4 linked regions of the Homo sapiens genome follow. The protein of the gene in region 1 purifies or fractionates together with the protein of each later gene. This does not show direct contact. Each region holds a gene or a part of one and is shown in the gene's direction. Other genes may lie near its edges.

The links.
Region 2: the proteins of ASB3 (region 1) and FOXP4 purify together in Homo sapiens (affinity purification with mass spectrometry, with the first as the bait; 2 studies listed by BioGRID). This does not show direct contact.
Region 3: the proteins of ASB3 (region 1) and SATB2 purify together in Homo sapiens (affinity purification with mass spectrometry, with the first as the bait; 2 studies listed by BioGRID). This does not show direct contact.
Region 4: the proteins of ASB3 (region 1) and LARP4B purify together in Homo sapiens (affinity purification with mass spectrometry, with the first as the bait; 2 studies listed by BioGRID). This does not show direct contact.

What each region holds. Positions count from the first base shown.
Region 1 is NC_000002.12:53,699,840-53,703,621, reverse strand, and holds part of ASB3 (ankyrin repeat and SOCS box protein 3), read left to right. Parts: intron 1-3,093; coding exon 3,094-3,351; intron 3,352-3,782. Other genes in the region: GPR75-ASB3 protein, read left to right, coding at 3,094-3,351. UniProt on the Homo sapiens protein: Probable substrate-recognition component of a SCF-like ECS (Elongin-Cullin-SOCS-box protein) E3 ubiquitin-protein ligase complex which mediates the ubiquitination and subsequent proteasomal degradation of target proteins. Recognizes TNFRSF1B.
Region 2 is NC_000006.12:41,552,744-41,556,525, forward strand, and holds part of FOXP4 (forkhead box protein P4), read left to right. Parts: intron 1-3,782. UniProt on the Homo sapiens protein: Transcriptional repressor that represses lung-specific expression.
Region 3 is NC_000002.12:199,268,860-199,273,076, reverse strand, and holds the end of SATB2 (DNA-binding protein SATB2), read left to right. Parts: intron 1-404; coding exon 405-866; 3' UTR 867-3,572; downstream 3,573-4,217. UniProt on the Homo sapiens protein: Binds to DNA, at nuclear matrix- or scaffold-associated regions. Thought to recognize the sugar-phosphate structure of double-stranded DNA.
Region 4 is NC_000010.11:827,061-830,842, reverse strand, and holds part of LARP4B (la-related protein 4B), read left to right. Parts: intron 1-1,108; coding exon 1,109-1,162; intron 1,163-1,248; coding exon 1,249-1,458; intron 1,459-3,782. UniProt on the Homo sapiens protein: Stimulates mRNA translation.

The sequences.
Region 1 (3,782 bases):
ATTTTCTTTATTCTTGTTGTTTTGAGATAGAATTTCACTCTGTTGCCCAGGCTGGAGTGCAGTAGTGCAATCATTGCTCACCGCAGCCTCAAACTTATGAGGTCAAGTGATCCTCCTGCCTTGGCCTCCTAAGGTGCCCCAGGTTTTAAGTTTTCTCTTCCTTATTATTTTTTCAGCTAATTCAACTTTTAAGCTCAGTATCAGTGTTCTGAAACATTTTTGGTAGGTATTCTTTGTGAGAATGACACTTAGCTCCTTTCACCACTCCCAGGGATGATGGAAAGGTGTCTCCTCCACTACTGTATAGATCCTGCAACAAAAGCAGTTTTTGTCCTTTGGAGCTAAAAAGTTAGCAGCTATATTGATATGAAGCCAGTCTTTCAAGAGTAATTGAGTAATCCATCTCGAATGAGGAAATATAAGAAAAAGATTCCTCCAAATGGAATGGGAAAGGAAGAGGGAAGTTGAGAAGTTTTAGGACTGTTTGAGCAAATATGAATGCCTTTTATATATGGCCACAGAAGTAGATTGTGGCTTAGCTCACCTGGTTTTGTCTGTTTTTCTAGTTGATACTAATCATTGTTATTACATTAGTTTCATAGAATTAATTGTGTCCATTCTAGCCACCATATCGTGTGGGCACATCTGACAAAACTGAATGTCTTCATCTTGTTTTCAGCTAATGGTCGAAAGCCATTCAGTAAAACTCACTATTTGGCCTGTTATAATTCACCTAATAAGTTGGTTGGATATTTTGTTTGCTAATTGAACATAAAATGCTGAAGATATTTGCCCATTTCTATTTGTTTAAAGTAAATTTTGTTTTCATGTTGAATTTTCTCTTACTGTGCTTCTTTTATGTGTGAGCACTGTTTTTCTGCATAGTTTTGAACTTCAAGGAGCGGAGTGGTAGAAAATGTGCAAACCCCCAAAATAAGGTCTAGACATTGGATTTTAATTTTTAAATCTCTCCTCTCAGTATCTGATGTTGTTCACTTCTTATATAATGTACAGTCCCTCTATGTCACAATTAATTCTTGATATTTATGTTAAACAAGATAGACTTTTGTTTAAATCTCGGGTACTTGAAGAGTTTTCTCAATTTGATATTAGGGCTACAGAGAGAATTTGTTGAAGTGTTAAGAGAAATACATACTAATTTATATTTTAACCAGAGGTTATCCATGCTCAAGGATTTATTGTGTGCTTAGTGACATGTAATAATCAAGGTCATATAGAGCCCTGAAGTTGAAGTTGCTTGTGTTTCTGTAGTGTGCACATGTATTTGAGACCTTCTTTAATAACCTTCCCAGAAGCTCAGGGCATGCTGACAAAACTCTATGCTTCTCCAGTTTATTTTGTGTTTATTTTATTCTTCAAACAAATGGTAGTTTTTTTGGGAAATGGTCTATATTGTAGCACTGTGCAGTTTTATAAGCCTTTTGGGATTTACTCTTGCCCCTTCTAATACAAGGCAATGTGAATAATTGGAAGAGGTTTAGAGCTGATTTTCTAAAGTGTGTTTTGGTAGAATACTAATTCTGTAGATTGTTAATAGATATTATATGGGATTAAAGGGGTTGTATTGTTAAATAAGTTTGGGAAGTACAGGATTAAATAATATTGAATATGTTTCTTTTGTAGAGGGCTTTTGAGAATTTTTCTTATTGTAGTGTGCTTTGTGAATTCCTAAAAGAGGAATGGATCTACAAAGATTTGAAAAGTCCAGAAACATAGGATAGAACTTATATTTAAGTATATATACCATTGTTCTTGTGTTTACAGAATTTTGGGCATTTTATACTTTTGTTTGCTTTTTTCAGATTAATGATTGGACCCATTGTTAATTTTAAAGGTACCTCTTCTGAAAAGTATCTGAAAGTTGAATAAAAACATTGAGCATATATTTGGAAATGTAACTAACACATTGTTTAAAAATACATTCATCCTATCTTTCTCAGGCTCACTGTATACTGTATAAGGAGGTTTCTCAGTTTTTTTCACTGGAGAGTATTTTTCATATGGATCATTTTCAGGAACTAAAGTTCTGTGTAACCTACTTTGGAAAACATAGATCTGGCTCTAAAATATTCTTCAATTTGGCTATATCATGAAGTGTTCAGTTTTCATAATAGAGAAGAGATATTGCAGAAATTTGCTATGTCATATTCACTGTTAGATTTTGGTTTGATATCATTATCCCAGTTCTGCCAATTACTAGCTCTGTGACTCAGCTTCAGTTTTTGCATCTACAATGGAGATAATAATAGAAGTTAATTAATTTTAAGATGTAGTATTGTAAATTAAATTTGTGTTAATTAAAAAAGTTTTTAAATTTTTTTTAATACCATTATAAATGTAAGGCCAGTCACGGTGGCATACCTTTTGGGAGACCAAAGCGGGAGGATTCATTGAGGCCAGGAGTTTGAGACCAGCCTGGGCAACATAGTGAGACTCTGTCTCTACAAAAAAATTTAAAAATTAGCCAGGCATGGTGGCATGTAGCTGTAGTCCCACCTACTCAGGAGGCTGAAGTGGGCGGATCACTGGAGCCCAGGAGTTCAGTTACAGTGAGCCTTGATTGTGCCACTGCACGTCAGCCTGGGCCACAGAGCAAGACCCTGTATCTAGAAAAATAAATAAGTTTAAAGTGGGAGGGAAATTGGCTAAGGTTATTGCTAAGGAAAATGATATCTTAGAGATTCCTAGAATCATTTAGTTTTAAGGATTGATCACGTTGTTTATTGATTTTGTTAAGCAAAGTATTTTGTAGTAAAGATACTCATTTGTACAAAATATCACAATTTGAGTTTTCTGTCAATGATAATTTTTTTTAAAATGACATTTAAGATGAATGTTTTAAATTATAATAATACCTGTTCACAGTTGAAAATTAAAAACCATGCAGGAGGGTGTAAAAAGCAAAAGCCCCACCACATTCTCTAATCTCAATCCACTAGATGTGTAGAAACCATCCACTATTTAATCTGCCATACTTATTCCCCAGCTGTAACTACTATTAACTGTTTGTAAGAAGTATCTTATGTCAAAGTCTAACTTCTTCTTTTTTTGTTTTTATTTTTTATGGTGGAGCTGTGAGTTCTTTGGAATTGTGAACATTCTTTTGAAATATGGAGCCCAGATAAATGAACTTCATTTGGCATACTGCCTGAAGTACGAGAAGTTTTCGATATTTCGCTACTTTTTGAGGAAAGGTTGCTCATTGGGACCATGGAACCATATATATGAATTTGTAAATCATGCAATTAAAGCACAAGCAAAATATAAGGAGTGGTTGCCACATCTTCTGGTTGCTGGATTTGACCCACTGATTCTACTGTGCAATTCTTGGTAAGAAATTCTACCATAGTCGGGCTTACCCTTTTTGAGTGAATATACTACCTTTAATTTCCTTCAGTTGAGATCCCAGTGTTTGGAGAAGGGTATCTGTGTTTTGACTGTGATGGCTGAATTGGGGTGAAGGAGTTGGTGGCTGCTAATAATGAGATTGAATTTAAGCACAGAGTCCTGGGAAAAGATAAGAGGTGACTGGAAGGAGGTATGAGGGGATAGATGCCAGTGAGCTCTTCTAAGAGGGATATTTCTTCGACTTCTGGGCATTCCTCATGCTTCTCTTAAAATGCCTGTAACAGAAGAAAGAATGCTTGGAGCTGCTTTGGAGATTTCTGTTGTCTATCCCTCAGCCAACCAGACTGAATAGTCCTGCCGTACAGCATCCTGTGTATTTGAAACTTGTCACCCTTAATAAATACTGATTTCTG
Region 2 (3,782 bases), on another chromosome or scaffold:
AGGGGACGGCTCAGGCAGCATGGCAGTGTTTAGCCACAGAGAAAGCTGCCCACCGATTGTGCTCAGAGATGATTTTGTGGGTCTAGGCCTAAACAGTCTGTACCCACACGGGTACATGATGAGGGTCCCCGGTAAGCCCACTGCTGCCAACTTCCTAACTCACTCTTCGGCCTTAGGCATGACCCGTCTTCTCTCTGGGCCTCAGTTTTCCTAACTGTACAGTGGGTGAAGAGGACACCTGCAGCCCCACATCCTCGGGCTCACCATCCTGAAGCTGTGGGTTGGGAGCCAGGCAAGAAGAGACCTGAAGGTCTCAACGTACACCCTCTTTGTTCCAAGGGCATCGGGAGCCTACTTCCATGGGTCCTTCTTGAAAGGGGTGCTGTGGAGCTCGGGGCAGAGGACACTATGACCCATGCAAGTCTCCTCCTTCCCAATTAGGCAGTGGAGCCTGATTAAAAGGGGTGCTGCCTGCCCCCTCCCACCCGATCCCCATCGACGAGATTTCCCTTCATCAGAATCTCACATTCTCCAGAAATTAATTTGATGCCTCATGTTATCAATTAATTGAATCTCGTTGGGAGAGAGAGCTCCGCGAGGTGAGGCGAGCTTCAGCTTGGCCCTTGTGTGCCGCCATCCCCCCTCCCCCTCACACCAGGGCAGCCTTCTCCTCCCCCATTCCTTTTTTTCTGCCTTTCTTTTAATTGCACTTATTTTCTAAAATAAAACCACTGCTCTGTGCCCCTTTGCCCAGTTTGGCTTGGATGGATACCCATGGACTGGGTACTGGCTGGGATTTGCCCTTTCAGAGGTGGGGGCAGGAGGACTTCCCCTCCCCTGGACCCTGTCTGATCTCTCCTTAAGTAAACAGAATCTCACCCTTTGGGAATTTGGCCGTGATCCTGTGTGCTCCAGGGGCTTCTGGTGAGAAACTTAGGAGGACTAGGGGAGGGAGGAAGAGCTGGGAACAGACTGCACCCTAGTTGGGGACAGAGGAGGTAGAGAAGGACCAAGCTAGGGACCTTTTAACCCTCAGGATTTTGTCATTCAGAAGCTGCTGCCCCTGCCAGAACTGATCCATTAAAACACAGGGCAGAGGGCATAGGTGTGTGGTACCTCCAAGCCTCCCAACAGTCAGGTCAGATATCTGCAGGAACAAGCCCTCAGCATTTTCAAGGACACTTGGAAGCCCTTGCTCTGCCCCCTGCATGGAAGATGGGGGAAGGAAGTTCTAATAGGACATCCCTATTAGGAAACCTGGGAGGTTGTTGTGGCAGGTAGAGCTAGGTAGTCACCAGGCCCTGACTGAGGAACTGTGCTTTGCCGTTTCACATACCTCCTTGTTCTTATCCCCACAACAACCCTGAAAGATTCTCCAGGCAGTGGTAATTATCACTCTCATTTGATAGGTGAAGTACCCAGGCCCAGAGAGGTTACCTGACTTGCCCCGAGTCACAGTTAACTGGAACTTGCCTTTCTGAAATGCTGGCCATAAGGGCTGAGGTCACAAGTGGACTAACTTCATCCCTGCTGAGTTTTGTTGACCCACACACAGTTCATTACAATGGTAAATTTCACATAAATATCCCCACTTCTGCTCCTTTTGAAAAACCCAAGCCCTGTCAACACTGAGCCTGCATTTCTGTGTGGAAAGGATGGACTGGGATTGAGTGGCAGCTGCCTCCTCGTGCCCTCCTCACCTGGCCTCCTAAGTGACCAGCCTAGCCCCTGAAGGCATTTTGGTTAGCAGCTTTGACATGGAGATTCACCTGTCCCCAGTATTCCTCAAGGAGAATCTAGTGTGGGACAGTGTCTGAAGGACTCTGCAGGGTCTAGCCAGGCACAGTGGCTCATGCCTGTAGTCCCAGCACTTTGGGAGGCCAAGGCAGGTGAATCACCTGAGGTCAGTGGTTCAAGACCATCCTGGCCAACATGGCGAAACCCCATCTCTACTAAAAATACAAAAGTTAGCCGGGCGTGGTGGCAGGCACCTGTAGTCCCAGCTACTCAGGAGGCTGAGGCAGGAGAATTGCTTGAACCCGGGAGGCGGAGGTTGCAGTGAGCCGAGATTGTGCCACTGCACTCTAGCCTGGGCGACAGAATGAGACTCTGCCTCCAAAAAAAAAAAAGACTGCAGGGTCTGTACAAGAAGATCTCAGAGAGAGGACCTATAAGGACACCCTGACCCAAATCTAATTCCCACACAGCTACTTAATAACTGATGGTGGGATGGGCGCAGTGGCTCATGCCTGTAATCCCAGCACTTGGGAGGCCAAAGTGGGAGGATCAGTTGAGCTCAGTTTGAGACCAGCCTGGGCAATATGGTGAAACCCCCTCTCTACAAAAAATACAAAAATTAGGGTGTGGTGGCATGTGACTGTAGTCCCAGCTACTCGGGAGGCTGAGACCAGAGGATCACTTAAGCCAAGGAGGAAAGGTTGCAGTGAGTGAGCCGAGATCGCGCTACTGCACTCCAGTCTGAGCGACACAGAGTGAGACCCTGTCTCAAAAAAAAAAAGAACTGATGGTTGTGGGTGATTCTTTTTGCCTTCTTTCTACCACAGAGGTTAGGTCTTTGTACCATAAGGCCTTGTGTCTCCGGGGGCCTGTTTCAAGATGAAATCAGCGCATCCCTGCCAGGGTGAGCCCCTCTATGATAAAGTCATCACTTGCCCCCTACATCTGAGGAAATGAAGGGAGGGGCCAAGGCATGTCGGGGCAGGCTGGGCAGAACAGCCAGGGGCCCAGAAATGGCCATACTCAGTGGTTTGTCCCAGGCCCTCTAGAGCCCCTCCTGTGCCCAAAGGAAACCCTGGTGCCAAAGGCACCACCAGAACCAGGCTCCAGATGGCCATTCAGGCCCTGGGCGAATTGCCCCTACCCCTTAACCAGCAGGCCCCCCACATAAGACGTCACTATTTAATTAGCCGTCTCTGATTAACCAAACTTGGCATTCGGCTCCTCTTGCCCTCATCTTTCCCAGCTCCGAATCAATGGCTTTGATATGCTAATTAGGGAGTAATTTAATTTCAAAAGGCCGCAATTAACAAGGGTGTTGTGGACATGCTGTAGTTAAGCGGAGTAATCTAATTTGCATTAGTAACAAGCAGGGACTAATTAGAAGCTTAATTAGACACTTAGATGGCTCTTATGTTTACTTTCTTAATGAGATGGAGTGGGATCTTTGGTTCTCTTTCTTTTTTTCCCCCTGTATTGTTAATTCTTTTTTTTGGTCTGTGTAGTAGGAAGGGGTATTGAGGGAGGCCACCTTGCCAGGGCCTGTGGGAGCGTTTCAGGGATGGAGCCAGTAAAAGGTAAGGTGGAGGGTGGTGGTAGGGGTAAGGGAAGGCTTGGATTCCAGAGTGACTCGGGGAGTTAGGACGCGGGGAGGAGCACTGGTTTAGGAGTCAGGAGAGCCACCTGGTTTCAGTTTGGCTCAGTCACTTAGCAGTCAGGTAACCTTGTCAAGTCTTTGGCATCTTTGAAGTGTGGTTCCATCCTCTGTCAAAATGAGCGCAAAATTGCATGGGGGAGAGAGGAGGGAGGGGCTATAGGAAAGCACTCTTGGGGACTCTGTGAATGTTTTTTTTTTTTTTTTGAAATGGAGTCTCGCTCTGTTGCCCAGGCTGGAGTGCAGTGGCGTCATCTTGGCTCACTGCAAGCTCCACCTCCCAGGTTCACACCATTCTCCTGCCTCAGTCTCCTGAGTAGCTGGGACTTACAGGCGCCCGCCAACACGCCCAGCTAATTTTTTGTATTTTTAGTAGAGATAGGGTTTCACC
Region 3 (4,217 bases), about 150 Mb from region 1:
GGAAGAATATGAACTTGAAGCCATGATGATAGAGTCCATACTTTCCCCTTTGTGCCCAATTTCTTTGTCGTTAGCCTTCAGAGAGGTGGCATATCTTGGTGGTTACAGGTATAGAAGACTCTGAAGCCAGGTTGCCTAAAGTGAGATGACCTTAGGCAATAAATGACTTGACTTTGCATCTCAGAATATAAATGATGGCAAATACTACTGTTATGAACCTCCTGTTTTGTAGGTGAGATACTAAATGTCCAGAAATGCTTTTAAGCTTTCCAAAGACCTGACTTTACAAATGACTATAGCTTACCTCCAGTGCTAGATAGATAACACATATTTCAGAGGGCTGATGGTTTTGGAAAGGTAAAATCATGAGTCCAGTGTTCATTTTTTTCTCTCTTAATTATCAGGTACTTCATAGACAGCAGTCTCAGCCAGCCAAGGAGAGTTCCCCTCCCAGAGAAGAAGCGCCTCCCCCACCTCCTCCGACTGAAGACAGTTGTGCCAAAAAGCCCCGGTCTCGCACAAAGATCTCCTTAGAAGCCCTGGGGATCCTCCAAAGCTTTATTCATGATGTAGGCCTGTACCCAGACCAGGAAGCCATCCACACTCTTTCGGCTCAGCTGGATCTCCCCAAACACACCATCATCAAGTTCTTCCAGAACCAGCGGTACCACGTGAAGCACCACGGGAAGCTGAAAGAGCACCTGGGCTCCGCGGTGGACGTGGCTGAATATAAGGACGAGGAGCTGCTGACCGAGTCAGAGGAGAACGACAGCGAGGAAGGCTCCGAGGAGATGTACAAAGTGGAGGCTGAGGAGGAAAATGCTGACAAAAGCAAGGCAGCACCTGCCGAAATTGACCAGAGATAATGTGAACTTCTACTAGGCAAAGCAATACATCGGTCCAAGGATTTTCTGCTTTCATTTCTTTAAAAGTTTTTTGTTAGTTTGTTTTTTGTTTTTGTTTTTGGGTTTTTTTGGCTTTATTTTTGTCTTTTTATGTCTGTTTTGTTTTTCTTACCCTTTTGGACATTTCTTTGTTGCACAGGATACACCTATAGACTGAATAAGTTCAGTATTTCCGAATCAGACATCGCCTTGGCAAAGACACTAAAGCGTTACACTTTATCCCGTCTCTATGACTGGATCATAGTCATTATAATCACAGGAGACTCTGCCTTCATTATCCTTGCACTTAACGGAAGTTACATCAGGCAAGTACCAGGATGAAAAGAACTATGAAATAAATGAAGGAAGCTACAAGTGTGTGTGTATATGTATATGTATATATCTCTATATTTACATATATATATTAAAATTGCATGGGACAGAGACTTTGCAATCCGAAAGAATAGACTGTGAAATGAGTTCTTAAAGAAAAGACTTGTTTATGTATTAAAAAAACCACTTCACAGTGAGTCGCTTTGGCTTTTTGATAAACTGCGGCCTGCTCTCAGGGTGGGGTGACTATTTTTGAATTCCTATTTATTTTTTGTGTTTGTCCCTGATTTTTTTTTTTTAATTCTATGGCTTCCTATCTGGCAGCTTAATGGGTAATTTTTGAGGTATGTATTTAACAAAATAAACGACACTGCCGAAAAAAAAAAAAGTGAAGTGAAAACAATCAGGGCACATTAAAATGATACAAGTCAAATAAATCTTAAAGACACAATGCACACTTAAAATGACTCAATAAAATGACTTGCTACGTTCCGTTATTCAATTTGTCATTACTGTAGTGAACAGATGCATTTCTGTGGAATTCCAAATAAGTAAAACTGAAATTCAGTGCAGAGAAAACTTTGTCCACTAGTGCAAGTCTTGATCAAATGACATTTTGACATTGGACATATGGAATTCATAGTATGAGCCACATTTTGTTGTGAAATTTATTTACCTGCTTGTGGCTTCAAATCTGAAAATTAATAAGCCTGCTCGTTTAAAAGTTGTTTGTTGTTGCTGTTTTTTTGTCTTTTTGTTTTTTACTAGAAAATAGTTCAGTGTAATATTAAGTTAGAAAAGAAGTTGCTGCCCAGTTAAAGGGGCTCCCTCTCAAATAAATCTCCATCCTTCCCTCTCCCAAAAGACATTTCTGATTTCTGCTTCACTTTGGGCTTCCTCTTCTTCGTACACATTCCATCTACCTAATCAAACATTTTCAGTCCCTGATCTCTCCTGTCCCTTTTCCTGGGATGACAGCCCTAACAAGAACTGTTTTTGAATCGTTGTGCAGCTCCAGGCAATAGAGTATGTGAAGCGATTTCAGTAGAATCACTTACTCATCCTAAAAGAAAACATTATCCCAGTTACCTACATCGCAATTACCTTATGTAAAGCAGAACTAATGCTGACTGGATGTTTAATGGGATGAGCATTAAAGCTGCAATCTACTATAGTACTCCAGATCTCTTTCGGCTTCCTATGAGAAACACCAGAAGCATTACTTTCCACTTCTACTTACAGTAATTGCAAGAGGAGACCTCACATTCAGGACTGGCCTAGTGAACGTAATCCATGCTTTAAACTGGCCATTAAACAGTCCCACATGGTTGGATTTTTTTTTTTTTTTTGAGTTGTGCTTTCACAAAACCTTGTCAAAGACCTCATGCAATATCACTTTGAAAGTTATTTTCTGTTTACTACACAAACATTGTAATATAACTGTTAATACTATTTATATATTTGAAAGGTATAAAAGGTAGGAGTTAAAAAAAAAACCTCTATGTGTAGATATTAACTCAGAACTTACAATATACAGGGAGAAGACATGTTGCAATACAAGCTAATTCTAGCTGCTCAGTAACCTCTGGAGTTTTTAAAGGGACATTTTCCTGTACTTTTTCAAATAATGATGTTTAAAAATTATCTTGACATAAGCGTCATATACCTTTGCAAAAGGATGGTTGTTTGCAGTTAGCCCTGGCCCCATCCTTCCTATTTCTGTAGTATGCTGCAGCTTTAATCAGAAAGTCCATGGTTGCTGCTTCCTGATCTCCGAGTTACTCTTTCCAAATTGTCTTCTTACACTGTTGCTGAAGGTCACTCTGTACACGTAATGGAAACTGATTTTGCCAAGCTCTTACAAGGTGGTTCATCTATCGATGGCATCCGCATTTGGTATCTTTTACACTTCAACCAAAAATTTATTAGGTATTTTTCAATGCTAAGTCTTGCCTTTTATTTTTTAATTTCACTGCCAAGTTTGCAGTGGTTCTAAGTGAATCTGTGGGCATTTTAGCCTGTGGTCTTGCCAGATCTTTGCGAATTACAATGCATATATGTCTATTTATTCAATATCTGTCATATAATATCTATTTGGAAGAAGAAACTTTCTCTTGTAGTGCCTCTTGACAAAGCACAATTTCCCGCCTTTTTTTTTTTTTGTGAAATGAAAAAAACAAATTGTGTTTTATTGCGGTATCAACAATGTGAATAAGGATTAACATATTGTAAATGTTCTTTTTTCCATGTAAATCAACTATCTTTGTTATCACTAAGTGATAATTAATTTTTAACTTATGTGCATTGTTAGGCTGTTAGAATTTTTTGGTTGTTAAAATAAACGCATTCAATAAATATGACTTTGTTTGTCAGTTATTTTACTGGGCATTATCTGCTTTCCCACTTAATTTTTCATGCAGAGAGAGACCTGGTGAGTCTTAGGAAAATTTGTACCCTTATTTTAGAAACAAGACAGTGGTACCTGCAATTACAGATATATGAGTCCTGTACAGTGCATGGATTTAATAGCACATGTGAATGTATGTGTGTCTCTGTGTGTATATAAACACATGCATGCTCACTTCCTTTATCCAATCTTTTGTCATATACAAACAAAACTCAAATGTATAAAGATATATTTATAGGCTGCTGTTTTATTTTTCTAGTGAATATTTTCTGTTTATAATTAAAAAACCACAAATGACTGCGTGTCAGGAAACTTTTGGAGCACATATGTCCATGGTTAATGGACATAATAAAAGTCTTTTATATTTAGAGCTGGGGTACCATAATGTGTGCATGGAGGAATGCTGAAAGGATTGATGTATCTGAGAAATGTGTGAAAATGATTTTTTAGAAAGTACTTACAATGGAAAAAACTGCTCAAAAGACTAATGTTAATAAGGAAAGAGCAAGTGCTTCGCTTCAGAACTGGCAAAGAAAAAGTAAATTAAAAAGTGATTTTGTTTTCTTTTGATATTGTAAATGTTTTTCCTGTTT
Region 4 (3,782 bases), on another chromosome or scaffold:
ATGAATTGCATAGTTTACCAGTTTTTACTATTAGTGCATGTTGGGACTAAACTTGGGCATTGAGATTACTTGTGATGGTAAGTTTGAATATAATCTGCAGAGGAAATCAAGTTGTAGAAACTTAAATATTTGAGTGTATTTGTATGGACAATTTTTATAGCAATATAAAAAGCATGTGATTTTACTTTCTAAGGACAACAAGCTAAGCAACCTAGGAAAATCAGTTTTGTTCTTCTATCTGGGCAGAGAAGTTTTACTATTTGCAAAGTGTTTGGGGGGAAATTTGAACCTAATCTTCATCTCCCAGCAGACTTCATTGTATTTTGGAAGATGCTTTTAATGGTATTGAGAAGTAAGCTCTGTAAGGAGGCGTGAGGAGTTAGTAGTTTTCCTGCTTTTAAGGGAAGCATCTTATTTGTGAGGAAACTAACGCACATATTATAAAGTGTTAAATGGTATAAACAGTATGTGGGGTTCAGAAAAGAAAACACAGAAACCTGAAAGATGGGTTTTAATTGGATGGAGGGGGAAAAGGGGAACGGAAGATAGAGTAACCATTTTTGTGGAGTGGAGTGTGAGCTCTGCCAGCCCGTGTGGCGAATGTGGTCGGATGATATTGAATCAGGTGCAGGGCCTTCACAGTTTTATAGGGGTTTAATGTAGAATTAACATGGAGAAGAACAAGGAGATATATCAAGAATGACTTTTGGATGTTATGATCCTAATCCTTTTCCTTCCTGTCTGGTATTTCCTGAACTGCATTCTCCTAATCTGAAATTGGGATGAATACTAGGAACTCAGTATTCATCATTTTCCACCAGGTCAAGGTTCTTAGCCAGTGGTCTTTGGGAGACTTCTATGGCATCTGTTAATACTTACAAAATTGTGTACAAATCTTGTTTGTGAGAATTTGGGGTACACGTTCCATAGCTCTTATGAGGTTATTTTAAGGGATCTGTGACCCAGGGAGTGTCAAGAATCATTATTCTAGGTTCTGTTCACCATAATTTAATTATATATTTCCCTATTTGAGCTATTGAGTGAACTATTGGTGCCTCTTATTCATAAGGTTAATCGAATGGAATTTTGTACTTAATTTTGCCCTTAGGCTTACAAATACCTTCGAGAAGAAGTCAAAACTTTTCAAGGAAAACCAATTAAGGTAAGCAAGACCATTGGTTATACTTTGTTTATTTGCAAATTGATGTTCTTAAGTATTCTAATAGAAACTTACATATTTTCAAACAGGCACGGATAAAAGCAAAGGCAATAGCTATAAACACATTTTTGCCAAAGAATGGATTTAGACCCCTGGACGTGAGCCTGTATGCCCAGCAGCGCTACGCGACGTCGTTCTACTTCCCTCCCATGTACAGCCCCCAGCAGCAGTTCCCCCTGTACAGCCTGATCACTCCCCAGACGTGGTCAGCAACGCACAGCTATCTTGACCCACCCTTGGTACGTCATTTCTTTACTAGGAATTTATGTTGTAGACACTATGCTAGATAATTTGAAGGATTAAAATCCTCATCTAATAGGAAGCCAGATATGTGTGCAGTCTGACATACTAAAACAGACCTTCAAGTTATGTGGGGGATTTTAAATGTAGCTGAGAACAGAGCTTATGCATAAAGAACTTTGGATTGCTGTGAGCACAATCCTTGCACAGCCCGTCTCCCCTCTTGTCATGCAGCTCTTAGCAAGACGCAGAGGGCGATAAGTGCTGTAGTGTACCTGGCGTCCCCTACACAGAGTACAATGCAAGGGGGATTAACTGAGGAGGAAGAGGTGTTTAATAGGCTTCTGACAGCAAGGCCAAGGAGAAGGCCTGCTGTTTTACCAGCCTTATTTTACTCACTTCTCACCAGCATTAGAGTTGGTCGACAGGATTAATTTTTATGGATTTTGGCCTTTGTTAAGGCCTATGGTTGGAATTCATAAGTCTGTACTGGATCTAGACATTGTCTCTTTGTGTGCTGCTATAGATGCTTGAAAGATCAAGTGCATTCTGGGTGGGAATTAGCATGAGTTTGGTGGCATTGGATGCACGAGAGTCAGCAATACACGGATGAGCATGTCCTTGAAGCTGAAGTCTAGTTGAGAAGTGAAGATGGGTTCATGGCCTAGAGGTTTGCATGAGGTAGCAATGCAGGTTAGTTGGAATTGGAGAGATTGAAGGGTAGCATACATAGAAGGTTATGGTCAGAAAGCAGAAATTGAGTTAGTAACTTTGAGAAGAGTTCATGTCCAGGGTTTCGCTGTGGACTAAGGGAAAGACTGAGTGGTCCTCAGGGTCGGATGGCTGGGAGCCAGGCACCCTGATGTGCAGGGATGTCACCGCTGACAGGCAGAAAAGGAGGGTAGGTGCAGAGCAGAGAGAACTTGAGAAAACAAGTGCCTGTATACACGGAAAGTAAAGATACGGGTCCATGAAACAACTCAGGCTGGAAAAGTCAAACATGCCAAGGAGACACGTGTACAGAATGCCAGAACACTGACAGGTCTTATCAGGGATTGTGTTGTCATCTAGGTTGAGCTTTTCAGGTTAAGTATGAGTTTTTCAGAAGGAATCAAAGAGAAGTTTCATGAACAGAAGATGGTCGTAGATTCATGGGTGTCTGAGCTGAAGCGTACACCGGGTGGCAGGGAGTTGGGGAACGAGCTGGCAGTTTCCAGGCCTAACTGCGCAGGTGCTTAGCTGTCCTGAGGCATGTGGGCTTTGGCCTAGTGCTTGTGGGAAGGTGTCTGAGGTTTCTAAGCGGAGAAATGAAACCATACTCCATTTAGAAAATAGCTCCTAAGGCCGTGTGAAGGGCAGGTGGGGACAGGGAGAGATTTTCAGAGGACCCCAATTCCCCCTGAGTCTGGAACCACCGCAGTGTAAGAACCTTTGGTAAAGTTACTTCTGTCTCTTTTGAGTAAGTCCTGATGGTAAGAAAAGTTTCTGGCTTTTTGAAGTAGCACATTCTATAAAAGTGTACCCATAGCTGAATACTTCGTTTTCCCAAAAGCATATCATGAGAGAACCTCAGAGAGACTTGAGTCCGTAGGCTCTGGGTGTTGAAGAATCATCGCTGCACGTGGCTTGCCATGCTAGTCCTTTCAGTTCTTCCTGCAGCAGTTGCTTCTTCCGTTTCTTTAATCATGGTTGACCCTCTCGGGGATCCTTGGGGTTCTGGGTCAGCTTATGGCCTTGACTTATGTTGTATGTTCAGGTTGCGGTGTGTGCCAGACAGCTGGTCCTGCTCTGAGTCTGTGATACTGGGGCTCTCCATCGCAGCCTTTTACTTGTGCTAAAACATGTGCGTCCTTTGTTCTGCAGCTGAAGAGATTGTGCCTATTAATCCCCAACAAGTAATAATAGGAACGCATTAATAATCAACTTTATTTTTTATATATGACCAATTTTATTTTTTATCTTGAGCAAAATTACTGGAATATCAGGGCTCTGTCTGTAAAATGACTTGCTGGAAATGATTAGTCCTCATTGCTCTGCCCATGATTTACAGCCTCAGATCCAGGTCTGCATTCATGGCTCTTCAAGTGTGATGTATTTTCTTTTTCTTTGAGACAGAGTCTCTCTCTGTCGCCCAGGCTGGAGTGCAGTGGCCGGATCTTGGCTCACTGCAAGCTCCGCCTCCCGGGTTCACGCCATTCTCCTGCCTCAGCCTCTTGAGTAGCTGGGACTACAGGCGCCCGCCACTACGCCCGGATAATTTTTTTGTATTTTTAGTAGAGACGGGGTTTCACCATGTTAGCCAGGATGGTCTTGATCTCCTGAC